Homo sapiens: one gene and its partners. The protein of the gene in region 4 interacts with the protein of the main gene of each other region in a biochemical or structural test. Each region holds a gene or a part of one and is shown on either strand. Other genes may lie near its edges. The genes, in order: EPS15, HIP1R, REPS2 and EPN1.

What was found.
Region 1: the proteins of EPN1 (region 4) and EPS15 form a complex in vitro, tested with the Homo sapiens proteins (4 studies listed by BioGRID and IntAct, with this or other methods).
Region 2: the proteins of EPN1 (region 4) and HIP1R form a complex in vitro, tested with the Homo sapiens proteins (one study listed by BioGRID).
Region 3: the proteins of EPN1 (region 4) and REPS2 form a complex in vitro, tested with the Homo sapiens proteins (3 studies listed by BioGRID and IntAct, with this or other methods).

The regions. Positions count from the first base shown.
Region 1 is NC_000001.11:51,397,247-51,404,277, reverse strand, and holds part of EPS15 (epidermal growth factor receptor substrate 15), read left to right. Parts: intron 1-745; coding exon 746-859; intron 860-1,752; coding exon 1,753-1,843; intron 1,844-3,324; coding exon 3,325-3,360; intron 3,361-5,112; coding exon 5,113-5,246; intron 5,247-7,031. UniProt on the Homo sapiens protein: Involved in cell growth regulation. May be involved in the regulation of mitogenic signals and control of cell proliferation. Involved in the internalization of ligand-inducible receptors of the receptor tyrosine kinase (RTK) type, in particular EGFR.
Region 2 is NC_000012.12:122,859,433-122,863,468, reverse strand, and holds the end of HIP1R (huntingtin-interacting protein 1-related protein), read right to left. Parts: coding exon 3,933-4,036; intron 3,698-3,932; coding exon 3,639-3,697; intron 3,423-3,638; coding exon 3,392-3,422; intron 3,322-3,391; coding exon 3,259-3,321; intron 3,047-3,258; coding exon 2,946-3,046; intron 2,791-2,945; coding exon 2,685-2,790; intron 2,554-2,684; coding exon 2,430-2,553; intron 2,339-2,429; coding exon 2,277-2,338; intron 2,162-2,276; coding exon 1,955-2,161; intron 1,764-1,954; coding exon 1,716-1,763; 3' UTR 508-1,715; downstream 1-507. UniProt on the Homo sapiens protein: Component of clathrin-coated pits and vesicles, that may link the endocytic machinery to the actin cytoskeleton. Binds 3-phosphoinositides (via ENTH domain).
Region 3 is NC_000023.11:16,949,653-16,956,683, forward strand, and holds part of REPS2 (ralBP1-associated Eps domain-containing protein 2), read left to right. Parts: intron 1-7,031. UniProt on the Homo sapiens protein: Involved in ligand-dependent receptor mediated endocytosis of the EGF and insulin receptors as part of the Ral signaling pathway. By controlling growth factor receptors endocytosis may regulate cell survival.
Region 4 is NC_000019.10:55,670,473-55,678,251, reverse strand, and holds the start of EPN1 (epsin-1), read right to left. Parts: upstream 3,027-7,779; 5' UTR 2,817-3,026; intron 1,624-2,816; exon of another isoform or gene 1,081-1,623; coding exon of another isoform or gene 1,034-1,080; intron 703-1,033; coding exon of another isoform or gene 518-702; intron 1-517. Other genes in the region: U2AF2 (splicing factor U2AF 65 kDa subunit), read right to left, coding at 4,184-4,318. UniProt on the Homo sapiens protein: Binds to membranes enriched in phosphatidylinositol 4,5-bisphosphate (PtdIns(4,5)P2). Modifies membrane curvature and facilitates the formation of clathrin-coated invaginations. Regulates receptor-mediated endocytosis.

The DNA of each region.
Region 1 (7,031 bases), on a different chromosome or scaffold from region 4:
GCCTCCCGGGTTTAAGCTATTCTCCTGCCTCAGCCTCCCGAGTAGCTGGGACTACAGGCGTGTGCCACCACACCTGGCTAATTTTTTGCATTTTTAGTAGAGACGGGGTTTCACCGTGTTAGCCAGGAAGGTCTCGATCTCCTGACCTTGTGATCTGCCTGCCTCGGCCTCCCAAAGTGCTGGGATTACAGGTGTGAGCCACTGCATCCGGCCTGCCCCTACTACTTCTTAAGTCTTTCACCCACTCGTCTAAATGAAGAAGACAATGGGAAGCCATTGAAGGACTTTTAACCAGAAGGGTCACGATCACATCCACATTTTAGAGCTATTAGTTTGGCTACAATAAGGAGAAGAGATTGGAAATACATGTATTGGAGGCAGGAAAGCAGTTGGAAGGAAGACTGCTATAGTAATTGGAACCAAAGATGATAGTACTATAAGTGATTGATAGTGACAGTGAGGATGGAGAAGAAGGCAAGGATTTGAAAAAGAGGTAAGAGGTAGACTGAGCAAGACTTGGAGTCATATTCTGAGGATTAAAGATGACCTGAAGGTTTCTGACATGAGTGACTTTGATGCTTGATGACACCATTTCCCTAAAAAAGATTATAGAAGGAGAAGTTATTTGATGAATACATTCTGCTTGTCTTTTTTTATTTTTAAATAGTTTTTGGTTATCTTTAGTCAGTTTTCTCTGCCATGTCAAAAAGTATATTGTTAATCTACTTGCATTAATATTTTGTAGGCAAGAAGTAGTCCTGAACTACTGCCTTCTGGTGTGACTGATGAAAATGAGGTGACTACAGCTGTTACTGAAAAAGTTTGTTCTGAACTCGACAATAATAGACATTCAAAAGAGGTAAAAAATGATTTTATATTTACATTGGGGACTTGTAAGGGTGGAAGGACAGGAGGAGGTGAATTATCAGACATTACTTAATGGGTACAATATACATTATTCAGATGATAGATACATCAAAAGCCCCGACTTCACCTTTAGGCAATATAGCCATGTAACAAAATTCCACTTGTGCCCCTTGAATTTATACATATAAAATAAATAAATGTTCTTAATAGCTGGATGTGGTGGCAAGTGCCTGTAGTCCCAGCTACTCAGGAGGTGAAGTAGGTGGATTGCTTGAGCCTGAGTTGGAGGCACTAGGCAACATAGAGGGACCTAATCTCTAAAAATTAAATGATATTTTAAAAAAATGTCCTTATCACTGTTTTCCTCAGATGAATTATACACTATTTTAGGTGAAGGAAAGAGAAAAATATGTTAAGGTGAAGGAAAGAGAAAAATGTGTTAAAGGTGCTTTATGACTAGAGAGATATTTGTTACATTACCATCAGTTGATTTTCCTTTTGTTTTCAAGACCAAGTCTCACTCTGTCACCCAGCCTTGAGTGCAGTAGTGTGATCTTGGCTCACTGCAACCTCCACCTCCCAGGTTCAAGCAATTCTCCTGCCTCAGCCTCCTGAGTAGCTGCACATGCCCAGCTAATTTTTGTGTTTTTGGTAGAGACGGGGTTTCACCATTTTGGCCAGGATGGTCTCTATCTCTTGACCTTGTGATCTGCCCACGTCAGCCTCCCAAAGTGCTGGGATTACAGGTGTGAGCCACCGTGCCTGGCCCATCAGTTGATTTTTCAAAGCATGTGTATGACCTGAATGTGTGTTATTTTATTTTAAAATGTTACCTTTTAAAACTTTGGTTTCTAAAAAATAATTTTAATTTAAAATTATTTTTAGGAAGATCCATTTAATGTAGACTCAAGTTCGCTGACAGGTCCAGTTGCAGATACAAACTTGGATTTTTTCCAGTCTGATCCTTTTGTTGGCAGTAAGTACTCTTTTTTTTATATTATAGATTTACCCAAAAAAAAGACTTTTTAATATATAAACTAAGGATTCAAGGCTTCAGTTTCAATAGCCTACCAACTCAGTCTGTCGCCCAGGCTGGAGTGCAGTGGCACGATCTCGGCTCACTGCAACCTCCGCCTCCTGGGTTCAAGCGATTCTCCTGTCTCAGCCTCTTGAGTAGCTGAGACTACAGGCGCCCACCACCACACCCAGCTAATTTTATGTATGTATGTATGTATGTATGTGTGTATTTATTTATTTATGTAATTAATTTATTTAGAAATGGAGTCTCGCTCTGTCGCCAGGCTGGAGTGCAGTGGCACAATCTCGGCTCACTGCAACTTCTGCCTCCCGGATTCAAGCTAATCTCCTGCCTCAGCCTCCTGAGTAGTTGGGATTGCAGGTGCCTGCCACCACACCCAGCTAACTTTTGTGTTTTTAGTAGAGGCGGGGTTTCACCATGTTGGCCAGGATGGTCTCCATCTCTTGACCTCGTGATCCGCCCACGTTGGCCTCCCAAAGTGCTGGGATTACAGGCGTGAGCCACCGCGTCTGGCCTAATTTTTGTATTTTTAGTAGAGACTGGGTTTCACCATTTTGACCAGGCTGGTCTTGAACTCCTGATGTAAGGTGATCCGCCTGCCTCGGCCTTCTAAAGTGCTGGGATTACAGGTGTGAGCCACTGCGCCTGGCCTGCTTTGTATTTTCCTACTGACTAATGTTGAACATCTTTCTAGATGCTTATTAGCCATTTGTGTATCTTCTTTGGAAAAGTGTTTATTCAATTTTGGTGAAGTCCAGTTATCTATTTTTTCTTCTGTCACTTGTGCTTTTGGTGTCATCTAAGAAACTATTACCTAAGTCGCAAAGATTTAATGCTGTCTTTGTCTAAGAGTTTTATAGTTTTGCTGTTACAGTTAGATCTTTGATCCATTTTGAGTTTATTTTTGTATATGATGTGAGATAGAGGTCGAGCTTCATTCTTTTGCAAGTGGATATCCAGTTGTCCTAACACCATTTGTTGAAAAGACTGTCCTTTCTCCATTTTGTGTTCTTGATACGCTTGTCAAAAATCAAATGACCATAAAGGTAAGGATTTATTTCTGGACTCTTCAATCCTGTAAGAATTTTTTTTTTTTTGCTTCAGTAAAGCTCAGTACCTTTATTTCTGAACTGGTGATGATAATACCCTCCCAGTACTCTTGTGGAGAGTAGAGATTTTGTTAGTAAAATTTTTGCTGTAATGTCTTCCCCTCCATCCGTAACCTCAACTTGTGATCAAGGTAAGTATAGTTGGCTGTATATTTCATAAGGTCAATGACATTCCTTATTTTATCTACTGTGAAGTGAAGTTATTGAAATAAACTTTGCTTTGCTTTTGTTTGAAAGTTACTCTTTAAGTAGTGGTGTCACCACAGTAAATATTGTTATTTGGATTTCTTTGTGTTTATTTTATCACAGGTGATCCTTTCAAGGATGATCCTTTTGGAAAAATCGGTCAGTATCTTATTGAGTTTCATCTTAGCTTTCATTCATTTCTGCTTAATAATAAGCTTATGTTATTTAGGTCTGAAACTGAAGCCCCAGTAAGATGCTCTATGTGCCTGGCATTTTCAGAAAGAGAGTAGTAAATTCTTTTGATTTTGCTTAATGAATTGTTGCTTTACTTTTACTTCTTCTTTTTTTTTTTTTTTTTTTTTTTGGTGTTTTTTGTTTTTGAGACAGGGTCTTATTCTGTCACCCAGGCTGGAATGCAGTGGTGTGATCATGGCTCACTGCAGCCTTGACTTCCTGGGCTCAAGCAATCCTCCTGCCTCAGCCTCCTGAGTACCTAGGTCTACAGGCTCATGCCAGCATACTTGACTGATTTTTTTTTATTTTTTGTAGAGACAGGGTCTCACTGTGTTGCCGAGGTTGGTCTCGAACTCCTGGGCTCAAGCAGTCCTCCTGCCTCAGCCTCCCAAAGTGCTGCGATTACAGACAGGTGTGAGCGACTGTGCCCGATAGCTTTACTTTTTTAAAAATGACATTAGTGTTTAGACTTTGGTGCTTTAAATATTTATTCTGATTCCTCCTTACTAACTAAAGGTTTGGTGAGCATAATGATCTATACTGCTTCAGGGTTTAGAATGTAATTTTGTTTTCCTAAGATTATAGCCCACACGTGTGATTAGAGGCAGAGAATCTTGAAGAATTACTAAAACATCAGGCTTTTTGAGATATTCTTTTTCTGGGAATTTTCATTAGAATAATGCAAATCTTGTTTACCATTTAGTTTTGCATCCCAAACCTGTTCTAAACTATTGGCTGTTAGCTTTGAGCTCAGAGAGAAAAATACATTTAGAAGTTTTTATTGTGTTTTCTTTAGTTACGGTAGCGTAGAATAAGGGGACTTAAAATTGGATCCCTTGAAATTATATGTTAATTTTAAAAATAAGTTTATTAGGTGGAAGGTTCTGTATCTTTTATCAAAATTGCAAAGGAGTCTGTGAAATAAAAAGTACTCAGCTTAGATTCTACAGTATTTCAAACTGTCTTTTTGGATTTTTTTTTTGAGACAGTCTTGCTCTGTTGCCCAGGCTAGAGTACAAGTAGTGCGGTCTTGACTCACTGCAACCTCCGCCTCCCATGCTCAAGCTATTATTCTCATGCCTCAGCCTCCCGAATAGCCAGGATTACGGGCGCGCACCACCACGCCTGGCTAATTTTTGTATTTTTAGTAGAGACAGGGTTTCACTGTGTTAGCCAGGCCGGTCTTAAACTCCTGAGCTCAAGTCATCCGTCTACCTCAACCTCCCAAAGTGCTGGAATTACAGGTGTGAGCCACTGCACCTGGCCCAAACTGTCTTTTTGTTTGTTTGTTTTTGAGACAGGGTCTCACTGTCACCCAGGCTGGAGTGCAGTGGCAGATCTTTGCTCACTGCAGCCTCTGCCTCACAGGTTCAAGTGAGTCTCCCACCTCAGCCTCCCGAGTAGCTGGGACTATAGGTGCGCACCACCATGCCTGGCTAATTTTTGTGTTTTTTAGTAGAGAGGAGGTTTTGACATGTTGGGCAGGCTGGTCTTGAACTCCTGACCTCAAGTGATCTGCCTGTCTCAGCCTCCCAAAGTGGTGGGAATGCAGACGTGAGCCACTGCACCTGGCCCCAGACTGTCTTTTAATTAAGGCACTGATCATACCTTCAAGTGATGGGAAATTTAGTGCAATAATTTTTTTTTGTCTCTTATATTCGTGCCTTATTTTTTTAGATCCATTTGGTGGTGATCCTTTCAAAGGTTCAGATCCATTTGCATCAGACTGTTTCTTCAGGCAATCTACTGATCCTTTTGCCACTTCAAGCACTGACCCTTTCAGTGCAGCCAACAATAGCAGTATTACATCGGTAAGTGGGAGAATTAAAAACTGTTAAGTTAAATGGATAATAAGTGTCCTAAGCAAGTTTCTTGAAATACATAGTGATGAAAGAACCCTCATTTAGATTACTTCTAATGGACCATATAAGAATTTCAGTCTCATCCCAATTCATTTAGTTTTTGGTTCAGACTGGTATTTCATAGTTTGATTACCCACTGGAATTAACTGGAATGACTGAACGGAGTCCAAAAGTGATGTTCATCTTTCAAGAGACTAAATCTTATCCTATTGAGGATACTAAAAATGATTGGAAATTTATAAGCCAATCTTACATAAAACTTTTCTGAAATGTTTGGTATATTATTGAAATAATGAAAATTAAAAGAATTTTAGAAAAATAAAATCGTTTATGTTATTTCATAGACACATCTGGAATGTTAATTCTGCAAAGTACAAATTCTCACTAAATGTCAAGCTCTCTTGAGAATGTACATACCTACAGCAATCACTGTTTAATAACCACATGCCTGATCCAGGTACTGGTGTGTGCTTTACATTCATTGTTTCTAATCTTCACATCAATTTTGCAAAGTAGGTGTTGATATCCCTATTTTAAAAATGAGGACACTGGGACTTAGAAAAATTAACATGTTTAAGGTCCTATAGCTAGTTGCTGTTTTATCTGGAGGCTTTAAAAAAATCTTCATGGCTGGGCGCGGTGGCTCACGCCTGTAATCCCAGCACTTTGGGAGGCTGAGGTGGGCGGATCACGAGGTCAGGAGATCGAGACCATCCTGGCTAACACGGTGAAAACTCGTCTCTACTAAAAATACAAAAAATTAGCCAGGCGCGGTGGTGGGTGCCTATAGTCCCAGCTACTCAGGAGGCTGAGGCAGGAGAATGGCGTGAACCCGGGAGGCGGAGCTTGCAGTGAGCCGAGATCGCGCCACTGCACTCCAGCCTGGGTGACAGAGCGAGACTCCGTCTCAAAAAAAAAAAAAAAAATCTTCATCTTGTGGATATTTAGAAATACTCAAAGGAGAATAATGTAATGAAATATTTTAACAAGCTTCCATGCATCCATTACCCAATTTCAATAGTTAGGAATGGTTTTGCAGGTTTTTGGTTTTGCTTTTTAATTTGTATTTTGAGACTTCGTTTTTGAGACCACAGTTTCATGTCTGTAGGTAAACTGAACCTATAAAGGACCAGTTAACTGAGAAGCATTTGAAGCAAAAAATTTGTCTTCTAGTACTATTAGATTAAGAATATTTCCTTTAAAATGTAATTGATTATTTTAAAGATAATAGGTTTTGTATTATTGAAAGTTGCTTCTTTTTTGTATTCAGTAAAGAGCTGCTTGGCTAAGAACTGGTGTTTTCCATTGAATAAAAACTGGACAGATACCTTCGTGACTGAATATTTTTCGTTTCCCTGGGCTGCTGGATACTCTGTTTTCCTATAGCACTTAGTTTGCAATGTGGACCCATTTGCCAAATTCTTCTAAAATTGCTGCTACTGGAATTCTTCTCCTCTCACCTTCTTATTCTAGCCTCTCATTCTCCTATCATCTAAAGAGCAAGAAAGCTAAATTAGCTCTTCTAATTTAAAAATGAATACATTCCTCTTGTCCTGTCCCCCATGAGATTTTTCTACCATTTGTTTTACTGACTTTTATTCCCAGTTTTCTAAAGGAATATTGTCCTTGCTTTACAGCTTGTAATTTCACCATTCAAAACAAAAAACCAGATTGGCAATATAATAATAGCTGCAGTTTATCTAATTTCCTCTGTGTGCCAGGGATGGTGCCAAG
Region 2 (4,036 bases), on a different chromosome or scaffold from region 4:
TGCTCCTGGGTAAAGTGGGTGCTTGTGAGGCTGCCACACACCCAGGGACTGAACACCTTTCCAGGTTTCCGGTAAGTGCAAAGGCTGTGTGTGGCCATGGCTCAAGTCCAAGCCAGCCGGGAGTCAGGGTCCCCACCTTAGCTTAGCAACTGTCAGTCAGGCATGGTCTCAGACACACTGAGGGGGTCAGCAACTGCTAGGAGCCCCAGGGAAGCTGTGGGCATTGAGGCTGGGAGTGCAAGTGGCCTCTGTGGAGGCAGCTGGCTCTTGGCCTCCTGTGTAAAAGGAGGGCCCTGAGGCCCATAAATCCCCCGAGAGAGAGATGGAAGGCGGACACACACACAGCCAGTGACAGCCCTGCTGAGCTTTTCTGCAGTCCCAAGTACTCTAGCATTAAATGCAGACATGAATAGGTCCCCGCCCCAGCACCTGGCCAGGGCCGACAAGGGAACACGTGTCCCTGGAGGAATGAAGAGCCAGGCACAGCCCCTCCCTCTGGGGCATCAGTGACAACAAACAGTCAAAGTGCATTTTATTGCCAACAGAACACTTCAGGAGGAAATGCTAACACAAAGCCAAGGCGCTGGTGCTGGCTCATTTTTGCTCCTCCTGACCTTGGCCAGTATTTGGTAGCCTTTCCAGAGCACAGGGTGAAAGGCTAAAGGGCTAGGGCTGGGGTGGGGGGAGCAGGAGGGCATGGCAGCTGCTGGCTCTGTCCTCCCAGCCTGGTCCCACCCCTCCTGCCGCTCTCCTTGGGCTCAAGGGACACACATTCGTTCAAATCTGACGGGCAAAGCCAGGGCCTAGCCCACTCTAGCCGCAGGGTCCCCTCCCTGAGGGCCCTGGTCCAGCACCTGGGTTTCTGGGCTTTTTCTGGCTGAGCTGGAGGGCCTAGGGCCAAGCCCACTCTCCGGAGGGCTGGAAACCACCCCTTCAGGTGGGCAGTGGGGCGCGGCCAGAACGGGGGAATGGAAAACAGGAAATGGGGGTGGCTGCAGATTCCAGCTGGAAATGGAAACTCACTCCAGGAGTGAAGGCAGCGCCCGGGCCGCTATGTCTCACCTCACTCCCCAGAAAGCGGCCCCTTCCAGCATCTGACCCCTCCTGGGGGGCTCCCATCACGGAGGCCCGAGGGCCAGGCCTGAGGAGTAATGGGCGACATTCCTCTAGCCCACACAGAGCCTGGTCTGCGGAGACCACGCAGCTGGAGGGCCTGGTAGAATCGGTGCCCCAGAAGGCCACAGACAGGATGCCTGACCCTCGTCCCATCAGCCGGCACGGGCTGTGTGCCTTCCATCCATCCACGACCTTCAGGAGTCCAGAAGGCAGGGAGCCCCACGCTGGCCCGGTTTCCCAGTGTGCTGACTACAAACGTAGGAAGAAGAGCTCTAGCTCGGAATATTAAAAACACTATTTTCTGAAGAGGAATATTAAAAACACTATTTTCTGAAGAGTTGAGGCTCAGGCCTACCGGGTCCTGGCTGCACCCCAAAGTTCCTTCTGCAGATAAATAAGAGACTCACATCCAGAAGCACCACCCACATGGCCCAGGACCCTGCAGGCTCAGTAAGGGCCAGGGGCCTTGAGGACATTGATCCAGACGGTGGGGCGGGAGGCTTGGGCACCAGGTGGAGGGGCAAGGCCTCTCGGTCCTGTCAGGGCAGTTGCAGAGGCCCAGGCCTGTCACCAGCCACCCTGCTGGACCCCTGGGGGGCCTAGTAGTTCACGAGTTGAGCTGGGTAGATGCCATCCTTTTTGTCAAGCTGCAGGGGTTAAAGGTGGGGGGTCAGTGGTCACAGCCAGGCACCTGGGGCCCCACCTCTCCCTTGAGCAAGCTCCTCCCTGCATGTTGTCAGTGGTCCCTGACTTCCCCAGGGACGTGCACCATGTGCCCCTCTAGGGCTGGGGACAGCACCCCCGTCCAGGAACTCCCCCATCCCAGTGCAGACGGCACCTGGTGGTCCTGTCTGGGGGCCACGCTGGGCTTCTGGGCCAGGGGTGGTTTCTTGGTGGTTACACTTCGGGGGGCAGTGCTGGGCCGGATGGCCACCTCCTCTCCAGGGCTGCCTGATGCCCCAGCCAGCACGTAGTGTTGCTTCCGCAACTCCCCCAGCCGCATGCGTTCAGCCTCCAGCGTCTTCTCCAGCTCCAGGACACGCACCTGTAGCCACACGGCCTGCTCAGCCCAGCCCAGCCTCCCCAGGGAGCTCTCTCCTGGGTCCAGGCTTCGCCCGAGGGATGAGCTCAGAGGTCACGGGGCAGCCATGGGCGCCTACCTGGGTCTCCATCTCCTGCTTCTTCAGCTTGATGAGGGACAGGCCGGAGAAATCCATGGTGTCTGTGGCCGGAGGACAAGGGGGTGAACATCTGGGCACCCACCCCCATTCAGCCTCGGGAGCCAGCAGCCCCCGTTGGCATCTGGCACTCACCTCTGTCCTCAATCTGCTCCTGGCCTGACTTGGTGGAGGCCACCACATTGGCAGCCCTCTCATTGACTGTGCGAGAACATTCCTGCAGGCGGCTCAGGTGGGGGCTGTGCTTGTTGGCCTTCACCTGAGGGGCGAGAGGTCAGGGTGGGCCCAGGTCTCCCAGCTCAGGGCAGCAGCAGGCCTGGGCTTGGCAGCCACAGCCCAGGCCAAGCTGGGCCCAGAGCCCAGTGTGCTGCTGTCGGCGTGCAAGCTCACCTTGGAGGCCGCCACCAGCTGGGCCGTGCTGGCTGCGATCTCGTGGGAGCAGACGATGAGCTCCTCATACTTGCCCGTGTGAAGCACCACCTTGTCAGCTGCCTCCCTGCGGGTCAAGGGCCAGTCAGGGCCAGGGTCTCTGACCCCACGGACGGCTGGCACCACTCCACACCCCCTCTACTCCCTGCACCCTGTTGAACCCCAAACTGCTCCAACTGGCAGGAAGCAGCCCCCTGCCCCCCCCCACCCAGGGCAACCTACACCAGCTGTGTGGCTCCCCAGCCCACAGCCTTGGAGGCCGAGATGAGGCCTTCGGTCCAGCGCGAGTTCTTGGCGTAAAATTCCTGCTGCGTGGCTGCCCCCTAGTGGCGACGGGAGAACAGGGCAGGACATGCCAGTCAAGGACACCAAAGGTGGAAAGTGGCCCTCAAGGGCCCTCTCCCCCTCACTCTGGCCATAGGGCGCATCCCTGAGGCCTCCCTGTGGTAGGGGGTGGAGGGTCTCATGCCCAGGGTGGCCTAGGCTGGGGGTCAGGCTCCTTGTGGACTGTGCCCTGCTGCCGCCGGCCCCTCACCCTGCCGCTCTCCACGATCTCCTTCTGCAGGCTAGTGGATGTCGTCACCAGGAGCCGGATAGCCTGCCGAGACCAAGACAGCAATGACTGGTGGCCCTCCAGGTGCAGACCCCCCCGGGTCACAGCCCCTCACCTTCATCAGGTCTGTGCAGGAGTTGAGGATCCTGGGGGAGAGAAGGAGAGACTTAGCTGCCGCTCTGCAGAGCAGCCCACACGACGCCATGGCGGGCCTGGCCACATCAGGGCTCAGCAGGTGGGGAGGGAGTGTCTGCTCTGAGCCAGGCCTTCCTTTCCCGTGAGCAGAACAGTTGGGGGCAGAACCTTAGGGGCCACGGGGAGCCCACCTCGGCTGGGCCTGGGGGGACAGAAGGGGGGCTCACCTCTCGTTCACCTCCAGCTTCACCCCCGAGCTGGCGTGGCGTGCCTGGTTCATCATGTCCTGCACCCAAGAACAGAGCCGTGAGCTGGCTGGGAGGAGGGGACCGTGGTCCTGGGAAAGCCAGGGCTGCCTCCTGCCCTCTCAGCTCTGACCTCACAGGCCCCTGGAAAACGCCATCTGTCCTCTGTCTGGAGGCTGAGAGCAGGAGTGGGTGCAGCCTGTACCCAGCCCAGTTGGGGCCTCCGGCCCCCAAAGCTCCACAGGAATGAGGGGAGTCCCCAGATCCCGTGCTCACCTCAATCCTCCGCACAGCATCTTCAATGGCTGCGGATGTGGCCGCCATCTCCTTGTCGACCACGGCCCCCAGCTCCTCCTGCCGCACATCTAGGCTCTTGGGTT
Region 3 (7,031 bases), on a different chromosome or scaffold from region 4:
CCGCCTCAGCCTCCCAAAGTGCTGGGATTACAGGCGTGAGCCACCATGCCTGGCCTTAACATATTTTTTAATAGACTATTTTTTTTTTTCAGAGCAGTTTTAGGTTCACAGCAAAATTTAGCAGAGTACCCATATATCCCCTGCCCCGACACACCCGTAGCTTTCCTTACTCTCAACGTCCCACATCAGAATAATAGAGTTTTTACAATTGATGAACCTACATTGACACCTCATTATTCCCCAAAGTCTATATATTAGGGCTCACTCTTGGTGTTGTACATTCTGTGGGTTTGGACAAATGTATAATGACGGTTCCACCATTGTAGTATCATACAGAATAGTTTCACTGCTCTAAAAATCTGTGCTCTATTGATTCATCCCTCCCTCTCCACTAACATGTGGCAATCACTGATTTTTTTTTTTTTTTTACTGTCCCCATAGTTTTGCCTTTTTTAGAATGTCATATAGTTGGAGTCATACAGTATATAGGCTTTTCACTTTGGCTTCTTTCATGTAGTACTATGCACTTAAAATTCCTTCATGTCTTTTTATGGTTTGGTGGCTCATTTCTTTATAGTGCTGAATAATATTCCATTGTCTGCATGTACTACAATTTATTTATTCACCTACTGAAGGATATCTTGGTTGCTTCCAAGTTTGGGCAATTATGGATAAAGCTGTTATAAACATCTGTATGCAGCCTTTTTTGTTACATGCAGGAGATAAGCTTTTGACTCATTTGGGTAAATAGCAAGGGGCATGATTGCTAGATTGTATGGTGAGAGTATATTTAGTTTTATAAGAAACTGCCAAACTGCTTTCCAAAGTGATTGTACCATTTTGCGTTCCCATCAGCAATGCATTGGTTTCTTTACAGAGTATTTATTTTCCTTTGCTGACTTATTTTAACAGCAGGATTCTAGCACTAGGTGGAAAACGTATATGAGTTTCTGATGTGTGTCAGGTACTGTCCTAGGTGCTGAGGTTATAATAGTGAATCCAACACAATCTCTGTCTTCATGGAGCTTATGTTCTCATGTGAATGTTTTTACACTTCAGAGTTTTTATTTGGTTGAGAAAAGACTTGAAATATAACATCCAAAAATAAAATGTCAGCCTGGTGCTGTGGCGCACGCCTGTAGTCCCAGTGCTTTGGGAGACCAAGGATGGGAGGATTGCTTGAGGCCAGGACTTTGAGATCAGCCTGGGTAACATAGTGAGACCCTGTCTCTACACAAAATAAAATAGCCGGGCATGGTGGCATGCGCTTGTAGTCCTAGCTACTCTGGAGGCTGAGGCAGGAGAATTGCTTGAGCCCAGGAGTTCAAGGTTATAGTGAACTATGATCGCACCATTGCTCTCCAGCGTAGGCAACAGAGCAAAACCCTGTATCAAAATAAAGTAAAATAAGCCTGTCAAACCCAAACCAAATACATGTCAAACCCAGACCTGATTCTTACCACACACTATGCCTTCTAGTAAAATTCTGGCCTTTGAATACCAACAAAATACTTCATAACCTGGGAAACCAACTACTCTAACGTTTGTTGCTCTGTCTTGAAATACTAAACAAAACCATTTACCTGTTCGTAGACATATTTTCTTTTTCTAGTTTAAAAGTATCCCATTCTGCCATTTTCCACCTAGTGCTAGAATCCTGCTCTTAAAATAAGTCAGCACAGGGAAATAAATACTCTATAAAGAGACCAAAAGACCTTTCAAAATAGGCTATGGCCAGGCCCAGTGGCTCACGCCTATAAATCCCAGCACTTTGGGAGTCTGAGGTCGGAGGATTACTTGAGCCCAGGAGTTCTAGACTAGCCTGGGCAAGATGGCAAAACCCCATCTACACACACACACACACACACACACACACACACACACACACACACACACACACACACACACCCCCGCTACCTACCTCTCTCTGGGGCATGCCTGTAGTCCCAGCTATTCTGGAGGCTGAGGTGGGAGGATCCCTTGAGCCCAGGAGTTTGAGGCTGCAATGAGCCATTATGACACCACTGCACTCCAGCCTGGGTGAAAGAGCCAGACCCTGTCTCATAAAATAAATAAGTAAATAAATAAAATATCTACCTTAAAGCAGCAAGTTTTGTATTTGATGTAATGAATTAACAGACCGCTTTATAATATCTATCTTTTAGGATAGTGTCAGTCTCTTGGAATGCTGTGCATGAGTCATCATTAAAATTGGTTTTCATTAAAAAAATTTTTTTAACATATACACATCTTATTGGAGTTTTCTTTTAAAATTCAAAAATGGGAACATTATTTTTTCAAAGCCAAGTAACAGAAGAGTATATAAAAAAGTCAATTTTGTGCATATCTTTTTACATTTTCTATGCTCATGTAAAACATACATGACTTATGTAATTATACACATATGCTCCAGATCTCATCTGTATTAATTTTTTAAATTATACTTTAGTTCTGGGATACACTTGGAGAACGTGCAGTTTTGTTACATAGGTATATATATGTGCCATGGTGATTTGCTGCACCCATCAACCCATCATCTACATTAGGTATTTCTCCTAATGCTATCTCTCCCCTAGCCCTGCACCCCTGAATAGGCCCCGGTGTGTGATGTTTCCCTCCCTGTGTCCATGTTTTCTCATTGTTCAGCTCCCACTTATGAGTGAGAACATGCGGTGTTTGGTTTTCTGTTCCTGTGTTAGTTTGCTGAGAATGATGGTTTCCGGCTTCATCCATGTTGGTTTTCATTTTTGTGATAGTTAATTCTTGGACATTAAGGGGAATAATTATAAAACACTGTTGCTTCCATATCAAGGGAAATCACTGAATGATTAAAAAAAACCCAATAAGTGTTGTCTGATTGTTTAAACAGCTTTCATTGAGGTAAATAAGTAAAACAAAGCTGTGAGAAGTAGGGAATATTTAAACAATTTGTGCGCATGCCCTCACCTTTGGGGAGAAGTCTTTTCTGAAGGCTCTCTTCTGATTTTTTGAAGCAACTGTTTAATCATTAAAGAAAATTATAGGTAAAAGACAAATTCTTGTGAACTTTCGCTCATTGCTAGATTATTAGGCAGAACTATTTTTTAAAAATTTAAATGAAACAACTTTATATTTTTACATCTTTAGATCATATCATTTTGTAACTATACTTTAGGGAAATAGAGGCCAGCATATTAAAACAGTAACTAGGGGCTGGGCAGGGTGGCTCATTGCCTGTAATCCTAGCACTTTGGGAGGCCGAGGCGGGCAGATCAGCTGAGGTCAGGAGTTTGAAACCAGCCTGGCCAACATAGCGAAACCCCATCTCTACTAAAAATACAAAAATTAGCAGGAGAATTGCTTGAACCGGAGAGGCGAAGGTTGCAGTGAGCTGAGATCAGGCCATTGCACTCCAGCCTGGGAGACAAGAGTGAAACTCTGTCTCAAAAACAAACAAACCAAAAAACAAACACACACACACACACACACACACACACACACACACACACACACAAACACACAAACCAGTAACTAGGACTAACTATATGCTGTTTTAGATTGACAGTATTCTTTTTTTCTAAAAGAGAATGAATGCCAGCAGATGTAGGAAGTACCAGAGCTAAACCATTGCCTGGTTAAAAGGAGTACCTCTGCATAATAGTTACTTGTTGACTCTTTTGTAATAAAATATTTCAGGCATGTAAAACTAGACAGTTACCCAAGAAATAACTGTGTATCCACCACTCCGTATAAGTAAAACAGCCCAGCTAGAGTGAAAGCCTGCTATGTCCCCTTCTCTGGTCCCATTCCCCTCCCTCCCTACCCTGGAGTTACCAGAGTCCTGAATTTGGTGTGCATGATTTGAAGATTTCTTTCTACTTTTATTGTATGTATATGTGGATATATATATTTGTGTATATATAAATCACTAAAAAAGATATTATTTTGGATGTCTTTTCAACTTAAGGAATATCGTATTCTGTGTAACCTTCTGCAACTTGCTTTTCCTCTCATTGTTTTGTTTTTGGAATTCATCTTGTTGACACATGTAATTTCAGTTCATTTATGTTTCCTTTTAAAAAATCTTTACTACTTACGTTTACAATGACTCATTGTTACAGTGCGGTAGAGACCCTTATGCCAAAAGGAAGTAGGTGGCATTTTTCCTTATTTATATAGAATGTCACATGACTGGGGGACTGTTCGAAACGTGTATGAAAATTAAGAACACCTTCATAGATAGCAGAATGCACACTTATATTCTTGAGCGTGCTAGGGGATGTTTGAGCTAATTAATTGACTTTCATGGGCTTTCTTTTTTTCTCATCTTTTATTTTTTTGAGACAGGGTCTTGCTGTGTCACCCAGACTGGAATGCAGCAATCTGATCATGACTCACTGTACCCTCAACCTCCTGGGCTCAAGCAATCTTCCTGCCTCAGGCTCCCGAGTAGCTGGGAATACAGGTGTGCAGCACCAAGCCTGGCTAATTTTCTTTTTAAAAATTTGTTGTGGAGATGGTGTCTCATTATGTTGCCCAGCCTGGTCTCAAACTCTTGGGCTCAAGTGATCTCCCGCCTCAGCCTCCCAAAGTGTTGGGATTACAGGTGTGAGCCACCACACCCTGCCATTTTTCATCTTTTTAAAAATGGAACATCTCAAATAAGCAAGTAGATAGAATAATGCATTAAACCCTGCTGCACTTGCCACTCAGGCCCAACAACTGTCAATGCAAGGTTAATTCAATTCCATCTACATTTCTATCTTTGTTCCCTCTCACCTTTGTTATCCTGAAGCAAGTCGCAAACATCATATGGTTCATAGGGCTTATCTTTAAGGAAGGAACCAGGGTGGGCAGAAGGAAATGGAAACATGCAGGGGTTTAGGTTGGCCAGAAAAGGTACCTGTGGCCTATGGTCAAATGGCAAGACTGATGATGGTTCAATACTGTCAAGCCTTTGGCTGTCATGGAGATAGACGTGCTTGAGAACTGATTTAGAATAGTTGGGAAACCTGTAGGGAGATTGAAAAAGTAACCAACTGAAGACCAGGAATACAAGATGGATTTGAATATTGTTCTAGCTTCACACTCCTAAGTAGGGGCTGTCCTATTTTAAGGGTGTAGACAATTGGTTTTGAGGAAATCTTGGGTTGTTTTTGCTAATTATTTATAACTTTTTTTTTTTTTTTTTTTTTTTGAGACAGAGTCTTGCTCTGTCGCCCGGGCTGAAGTGCAGTGGCGCAAGGTCGGCTCACTGCAACCTCCGCCTCCCAGGTTCAAGCAGTTCTCCCTGCCTCAGCCTTCTGAGTAGCTGGGACTACAGGCGCCCACCACCATGCCTGGCTAATTTTTATATTTTTTAGTAGAGATGGGGTTTCGCCATGTTGACTAGGCTGGTCTTGAACTCCTGACCTCAGGTGATCTGCCCACCCTGGCCTCCCAAAGTGCTGGGATTACAGGTGTGAGCCACCGCGCCTGGCCTATTTATAACTTTAAAAAGAGGGTTTGGTTCCTTTCCAGGGTTTTTCAAACTTTCTGTTTGTTTCGTATAGGCAAGTTTCTCATGTTTTGTATTGATGGCATTCTATTATTCATACCTATCTGTTGGTGGGCAACTAATCAACCTGGGTTGCGCAGGACTGAAGGATTTCCTGGGGGCATGGAACTTCAGTCTTCAGACAGTCCTAGGCAAACTGGGATGGTCACCCCCTCTCTTGGTTGCTGCATTAGTTATCTATTGCTCTATAATGAATTACCACAAACTTAGCAGCTTAAAGCAGCACACAGTTATTATCTCCCAGTTTCTGTGGGTTCGGGAGTCTGGACATGGCTCAGTTGGGTCCTCAGCTCAGAGTTTCATAAAGCCACAATCAAGGTGTCTGGAGCTTGGAGTCCTCTGTGGAGGTCCAACACTTGGTTGCAGAATTCAGTTCCTTGTGATTTTAGAACTGAGGCTCTCAACTTCGAGGCTTCCTGCAGTTCCCTCCACATGGCCTTCTCCATAGGCAATTCACAACATGGCTCTTGGCTTCTTCAAGGCCAGCAGGAGAGTGTCTCTCTCCAGTTAGCTCAGACACCTTTGCCATAGTCCATTAGTTAGAAGCAAGTCACAGGTTTTGTCTGCTCTCAAGGGGAGGGGATTATACAAAACAACAGAGACCAGGAGGTGAGAATTTTGCGGGGGACACCTTAGGATCTTTCCACCACACTTGCTTTCCAGGATTTGTCTGAAGTAGAAAATTATTCTGTTGAGCCTTTTTGTGGCCAGAATATACATATGTTTTGCTCAGCCACTAATTTAGAATTCCTTTATCTTTTTAAGAAACATTTTCATGCGTAATTCATCCTAAGTAGAACTGGCAAATATGTAACTTCTTAGGTATTTTCAATTTTAGTCTTTAGGCAATTGTTTTTCCTCTTAACTAGTAGGAGGCAGGAAAAAAAAGTGGAAAAGCAGATGCAAATGCCCTGCCTGGCTACTCCTGCACGCAGTGCTCTAAAGCAGGCCTTCTCAGCCTGGGTTAGTTCAGGGGTCTGTGAATTTAGATGTGGAAAAGAACTACATCTTTTTTTTTTTTTTTACTAACTGCCCTTCCCCCAACTGAAATTGAGCACTTCCTTCTATTATGCATGTAAGCAAAAAACCACAGCAGTTTTTTTTTTTTTTTTTTTTTTTTTTTTTTTTTTTGAGACAGGGTCTTGCTCTGTCACCCAGGCTGGAGTGCAATCTCACAATTTTGGTTCACTGCAACCTGTGCCTCCTGGGCCCAAATGATCCTTCCATCTCAGCCTCCCAAGTAGCTGGGACTACACGTGCATGCCACCACACCCAGCTAATTTTTGTATTTTTTGTAGAAACGGGATTTTGCCATGTTGCCTAGGCAACAGGGTTCACTGCTTTCGGTCAAATGACAGCAATGCTGCTGGCAAGTCCATGGTCAGGAGTGAGATTCCCTCAGGCTGCTGTGGTCCCTCCTCCTCCAGTCTGTCCTGCAGGAAGCTCAGAGTGAATGGATGCTCAGCTGTTTCCTCTGAGACCTCACCAGGGACAG
Region 4 (7,779 bases):
ATCTTTTGCACCTCAGCTTTCTCTTCTGTCAAATGGGGCTCCATGCGGTCATCTAGAGAACTGACGCCCTGTAAACACCGGCAGCGCATCAGGAGGCCCTCCGTCCTGCCCATGCGCTCTTCCTTCTTCCTCATCCAGGGATATCCACTCACCCCAAGGGCTCTGCTTACACTTCCCAGGTGCACACCCAAACATCACAGTCACCTATCCCTGGGGCCTCATCAGTAAACTCAGTCTCCCTCATGATTTTATATTCTCGTCTGATTCTGTAGCTAAGGTCAACCCACAGGCCCCATGGGGGCAGAGAACATGTCTGTCTGCATGTGGCTTTTCCCAGCAAAGAAGCTGGCCCAGAAAAACCATTCAGTAAACCATGCAAGGAGGAAGTGGAGAGGGAGGGCAGGAAAGACCTCTGGAACAAGGGCAGAGGGGGCAGGAATCCACAGCAGAAACAAGGACACATGGGAAAGAAGGCTGATGAAGGGATTAAAGACAGAGGCAGGAGCAGGGAACCAACCCAGGGCGGCAGGAAGAACCGGGGAAGCCAGAAGACCAGACGTCCCAAGGATAGCGGAAGCCCAAGGCTCAGGAGAGATAAGGAACCTAACAGCCCCACTGCCTGGGTCCCTGCTGTGTGCCAGGTGCTCGCTCAGCACAAGAGGGACATTACCTTTTTCAACACTGCATGCAAAGACTGGGCTCCTGGAAGTTAAATAATTCAACCAAGGTCACACACCAGGAATGGCAGGGCAGACTCAACCCGAGGCCCACCTGAACTCCAAAACTCATACTTTTAAATTAACCTAAATTAAATTAACCCATCCCGAGACTGGTGACGAGAAACAAGAGAGTCAAGCAAATGATGATGACACCAGCAGACACTCGCACTGCTCTTATCCCATGCCAGGCACTGTTTTAAGTGCTTTACATGTATTAACTCAGTTAATCCTTGAAACAACCCCATGATTCATAGCCACCTCACAGGGTGGAAACTGAGACACAGAGGTTCAGCCCCTTGCCCAGGGACACACACCTTACTCCTGGAGCAGCCTGGTTCCAGAGCCAGCTCTGATCACCCATCTATGCGGCTCCAAGAAGCCACAGAGGGAGATTTTCAAAGCCCCGCCATGATGTAAGCCCAGGGGAGATAGGGATGACGGAGAGAGGCTGGCCTCTGCTTCCACCTCAGGCCAGAAAGCCAGGCACCTGAAGACAGATGTAGCTAGTTAAAAAGTAACTCTCTGGAGTCCCAAAACAGCCCCAGCCTAATACATTAAGATGAAGAGATGATGTAACAAATGCAGAGAAGGGGACTGAGAAGAAATAGAAGACAGTTCTGACAGAAAGAGACACATAGAAACCTGGGCAGAGGGAGCTAGGCAGAGACACAATGAGAAAAACACAGGCAGCAGCAGATACAAGAACATGGGAAGACAGGGAGGCAGGAGGCCAAGGAAGAAAGAGGCCCAGAAACAAAAAGAGACCTGGCGCTGAGAAATAAGAGATAAGAAAAATGGAATCTAATGGCAAAGAATATAAAATGTGGGTTCAAATCCTGGCCACATCAGCTACCTGCAGCGCACACCTCCTTGAGACACAGTTTGCTCAACTCTGAAATGAAAGAATTCCTACCTGGTAGGCCTGTTGATTAAATAAGATGGGTACATGCAGTGCTTGGCTCTGTGCCCCACAGATAGTAGGCGCTCAATAACACTGGCTGCTATTATTATCAGAGAAAAAACAGAGAACATTTCCAAAAGGGTGGCGGCAGAAAAGGCACTATCTTAATACTCTGTACTTATTTGGCGTGCATTAGAAAAAATTACCCAACTAGCACATCAAAGCTGAGATTTCTCAGATACTGCTTAGAATGAGACTGTATTTCAAATTAAATTGATTCAAAGAGAATTCTTACATTAAAAAGAATACAAAGGATATGGCAAAGTTCTCCAAGGAGTACTCCAATAACCGACCGATATCTAACACTTACTGTGTAAAAATCTCTAAGCACTGTAATAATAAAAACCAGAGCTCCCAGTAATTACACACTTGCTATGTGTCAGATACCGTCAGGCACTTTACAAGCATCACCTCAACTTACATGCACAAGGACCCTATGATGTAGGAACTACGAATGCCTACGAACTATGGATTTCCTACGACTAGGAAACTGAGGTTTTGACACAGAGACTATCACCTGGCAATTACACAGCTTAGCAGGCAGCCGGGCTTCTGAATCCAAGGCTGGGGCTCTTCACCATCACACCAGAGACTCAGAAAACTGGGGAAAAGGGGCAGATTCTAGATCAAGTTAACAGACTCCTGGAAAGAAACTTCAGGATTGGAGGTGATAGGTATGGGGGCAAAACTCAGATGCGAAGACGGGGCGGGGGTAAGATTTGCACCATAGGCAGAAAAGCCCGCAGGGAAGGGCTAGAGACACCTAGGGAAAAGAAGACTCGGAAACTCAACGAGACACGAACAAATCCTGACAGACACAGACACGACAGACAGAGGAGAGAGAGACCCGGGACAGACACACAAACACACTCCTATCTCCAAACCCTTTTCTAAGTTCACTGAAACAGGCACAGGCAGAGGCCCACAGGAAACAGACGCTGACAGACACACAGACACGAGAGAGACAGACACAGACAACCGACACGGGGGCAGTCAAGGCCGACACAGGAGCAGAGACACAAAGGCCGCCAGAGACACCCAGAACTGGCCAGACGCGAGCCCGCGCGCGCCGCGGCCCAGGCCCGAACACCCGGAGCAGGCGGGCCAGCGTCCCCCGCGCTCCGCCCCGCGCTCACCTCGGCCCCCTCACGCCGGGCTCTGGGGGGTCATGGCGGTCAGCCCCCTGCCCCGCTCGGCCTCGGTGTCGCGGGACGTGCGCCGGGCCACGGGCGCACGCACGAACGCAAGGAGGGCCGCACGCCGACGGCTCCGCCGCCCCGCCGCCCAGAAGGGGCGCGGAGAGCCGGGCGGGGGAGGGGAGCCGCCGAGGAGACGGGAAGCAACAGAAGGAGGCGACGGACCGGAAGCGGAAATTGCCGCGCTCCCCGCCCTCCCGTGCCGCACCCCGCCCTGGCAGGAGTCGCTTCCGCAGCCAAGCCAACCTGGAAGGCATCACTTCCGGCGCGCTGGGCCCCGTTGCTAGGCGCCTCTACGTCACTTCCGCCCGCTGCAGCGGGGGATCCGCGCGGTGCTCACGGAACGCCGAGAGTCAGCTCCAGCTCGCTTGGCGGCAACCGCGGAGCTCCTGGCACACCCACGCCACGCCCGCCCCGGCCCGCTCGGCCACCATCCCTCCTGTCGGCGGGGTGGGAGAGCACTCGGGAACCTCACGTCCCCCGGGGCTGTGCCTGTGCCGACCCCGAGAAGGGCACCGCGCAAGCAGGGAAGGCCTCGAGGCTGCCGGCGCCGGCAGCAGGGGCGTCCCAGCCAGGGGCCCGCAGTTTGCCAAGGGAACCCCCACCCGAGCCCAGAACCGAGGAAGAGGGTCGGACATACTGGACACACAGCCGCTCCATAAAGTAAAATACAACAAAATGTTTAATGAGCAAATTCGTCTTAGCAAATATGAAACTGCCACAGAGAGTAGGAGAGGGGCAGGGGCCACGGGGCTGGGCGCAGGTCGGGGGAGACTAAAGAGGAAAAATCAACTACGTAAGAAACCCAGGAGGGGACCAGAGAGGACCAGAGGCCGAAGGAACAGAGCTGTGGTCCTGGTAAGGGAGAGGGCAGGGCACTGAGGGCCGGACAACAAAATTCAAAATAGTTTGGCCATAAAATATAAACACGCTATGTTCCTACCGTGGGGAAGGGGAGAAGAAAGGGGTCTATGGGAGAAGGAGAGGCTGTTTTGGGAGGGGCTGGGGTCCTACCCCGCCCTGCTGTGCACCCTGTCCCCATCCCAACCCCTTCCCTCTGTGTCTGTGTGGGTGCGTGTTGTCTGTGTGGGCTGTGTGCGCACTTCCCCAGTCCCCTCCCTGCCCTAACCCCCCAACCCCCCAACCCCCGCCCCCCACCCTTAATTGCTGCCATTCCAGTTGCTGCCGGCTGTCGTGTGTCTGCGGCTGTCACTCCTCTGCCCATCGTCTTCAGAGGGGGATAAGGGGGGGGCGGGAGTGGGGAGAAGCCCCCAGCCAGCCCTGCCCCCACCCTCCCCCAGCCGCCTCTACCAGAAGTCCCGGCGGTGATAAGAGTCGGGGTCACAGTATTTTGTGACAACCACTCTGTTGGCGAACTTGCGGCCCGTCAGGCCCTGCATGGCTTTCTGGCAGTCAAACACAGAGGTGAACTCCACAAAGATCTGTGGGGAAAGGAGAGGCAGGTTTGTGAACAAGGCTCACGCCCAACAGCCAGTCAGCGTCCACCCAACCCCAGCACTGAAGGCAGGAAGGGACAGGGAGGAGGGGGCTTCGCCACAGGTGTCAGAAAGGGACCCTTAGTAAGCAGGTTTGGTGGAGTTCACCCAAATATTCTCCAGGATCAAAAAACAAGAGCATAAACACACCATAGGCATGGAGAGGGAGAAAGAATAGAGACATGCCAGAAACTCAGCAGAGCCATAGAGCGCAGGCGGGAGGCCTAGACGAGCTCACCGCGGGGGAGGGGTCCCTCGTGCTGAGTGTCTACTCCACACGAGCCACCATGGTGGGCGCTCCCAGAACCACCCCAACAGCCATGTTCTCCCAACAATAAGTGAACTAAGGGAAGCTCAGAAATTAGGATTCAAACCCAGGTTGAATAAAATTTAAAAACTTGAACCTTGATCTATTCGAGCTTCTAACCTTGCTTAAACCAATTTACAGGAAAATGGAGGGAGGGAAGGATACAATGAGCCTACACGAACACTGAAAATTCTATATAGCAGATGAACTTATTTCTTCTACAAATAAAAGAGCTTGCAAAAAAAAAAAAGAGGGAGTGAGGTACAAAGGATAAATTACACAAACTTTGTAACCAAATTCAAGGCAGGGACCTGATATGGATCCTTACTGAAACAAACTATAAAAAATATCCTCGGCTGGGCACAGTGGCTCACGCCTGTAATCCCAGTACTTTGGGAGGCTGAGGCAGATGGATCACCTGAGGTCAGGAGTTCAAGACCAGCATGGCCAACATAGCGAAACCCCATCTCTACCAAAAATACAAAAATTAGCCAGACATGATGGCGGGTGCCTGTCCCAGCTACTCTTCTTTAACTCGGGAGGTGAAGGATGCAGTGAGCCGAGATTGCGCCACTGCACTCCAGCCTGGGTGACAGAGTGAGGCTCCGTCTCAAAAAAAAAAAAATTATTGGCCGGGCGCGGTGGCTCACGCCTGTAATCCCAGTACTTTGGGAGGCCAAGACGGGCGGCTCACAAAGTCAGGAGATCGAGACCATCCTGGCTAACACGGTGAAACCCTGTCTCTATTAAAAATACAAAAAAAATTAACCAGGTGTGGTGGCGGGCACACTGCACTCCAGCCTGGGCAACAGCGAGACTCTGTCTCAAAAAAAAAAAAAAAAATTCTTGAGATAGAAAAATTTGAACATGGAATAGGCACTAAGGAATTTCGCTAATCTAATCATGCTATTGTGGTTTTGTTAAAAAAACAAAACAATTTTTTAAGGTTATCTGGTTAGAGCAGTGGTTGTCAACTGGAGGAGGGGGGGTGTCCCCAGGGAACACTGAGCAATCTTTGGAGATGCTTTTGGGTGTCTCAGCAGGGAGTAGTGCTCTTGCATCCGGTGGGTGGAGGCTGGGGATACATCTCAATATCCTACAACGCACAGCAAAGGCCCCCACAGAGAAGTTATCTGACCCAAAATGTTAATTGAGAAATAATAGAAATATACTTAAGGATCTCAGGTGAAATAAACCTGATAAGCCTTAAAATAATCCAGCAAAGAAAAAGGAGGGGGGAGAAATAAGCTGAATATGAAAATTAAGAATGACAAAATATTGGTAACTTGAAGCCAGATGAAGGAACACCAAAATATTAGCACATATACTATGATAAAAACGTATCACTATCATAGTCCCTACTTTTAAGTATATTTGAAAAGACATGTAACAAAAAATTTAAGAATAAAACAATACAATGCAGTAATTTTTTTTTTTTTTTTCTGAGACCATGTCTTGCTCTGTCACCCAGGCTGGAGTGCAGTGGCGTAATCTTGGCTCACTGCAACCTCCGCCTCCCGGGTTCAAGTAATTCTCCTGCCTCAGACTCCTGAGTAGCTGGGATTACAGGCACGCACCGCCACCATGCCTGGCTAATTTTTGTATTTTTTAGTAGAGATGGGGTTTCACCACATTGGCCAGGCTGGTCTCCAACTCCTGACCTCATGATCCGCCCGTCTCGGCCTCCCAAAGTGCTGGGATTACAGGCGTGAGCCACCTCGCCGGGCCGCCGATGCAATAAATTTAATATGCAAAACAGGTCAGCTGATCCCAAAGGCCAGGGTCTCTCCATTCCTTCTTCCCACAAATGTTTCCTCAGCCCCTGCTTGAGCCAAGCTCCATCCCAGCACCAGAGGGCAGCCCTGAGCAGCCCTGACATACCAGCTCAAGGGAAGGGGACTCTGGAGGGCAGTGGGCAGGAGCTGCAGTGAGAGGAGATGCCGTTGGCCTTCCCCATGCCCCTTTTCTAAGATGCTCCTTCCACCTCTCCAGCCGCCCTCCCCAACCCTGCTCTCCCTGGGCAAACCACTCCGACATCCCAAGCAGGGCCTCGACAGACACCTGAGTGTCCATCAGCCCTCATGCTGGGAACACAGACCTGTCCAGCTAATTTTTCCTTGACATCTCTACTGGGTGTCTCAGAAACCGCAAAGCCAGCTAGCTGCCCCCCACCCCCCGCTCACCCCCGACAAGGTGCTCATCACCCCTGCATCTCACCTGCCATCCCCACCATCAGAGCTGCCACTAAGCAGCTCATAGGCCTTCTCCTCCCCTCCCCACAAACCCACACCCATCACCAAAGTCTGGACACTTCCCAGGCACAAGTCTCCCTCAAATCCATCAACTTCTCTCCATCCCCTGCTACTACTTTAAATCAGATCACCATCTTTCACCAGATTATTGCGGGAGACCTCATTCATTTTCCCAACTGCAGCCACAATCACCTCAAAAATGCCACCACCACAGTCCTGTTTTCTCCTTCAAAAGGCCACCAACTCCAGGGGAAAGCCGAGCTGCTTCCATGACATAAGAAGGCCCCCACGCCCGATCTGGCCCTGCAGAGCCAGCCTTGGTCCTGACAAACCTGGCTGTGGCATCGCTTTGGCAAGACCAACCCTGCCAGCTCCCGGCAAGCCCTCCTGTCCACAGCACCCTCTCTGCCCTCCTGCTGATCCACATCCTGCCCTGCAGGGCTCAGCAGGGAAGCCAGGGCCAGGGGAAGTACCTGCTGTGCCTCCGCACCCACCCCCAACCTCACTATGTGGGGTCATTTCCATCTGCCAGGCGTGACCACCCTGGAGGCCTCTCAGTATTGCTTCCCTCCCATCTGGCTCAAAATAAGCGGTCGTTCCAAGACCCAGGCAGCCCTCCAAGGCCTGCCACTCAGCCCTGGCCCCACCACCTCGCTCACTCACCTGCTCACTGCCACCTCTTGACCTTGACCACCCTGAACGAACAGTACACCCAGGAATGCGGCCCCTGCCCCGACTCAATACGGCATGCAGGTCCTCTAACAGCTGCACGGACAGCAGGGTGCAGGGACAGCAGGGTGCACGGGACAGCAGGGTGCACGGACAGCAGGGTGCACGGACAGCAGGGT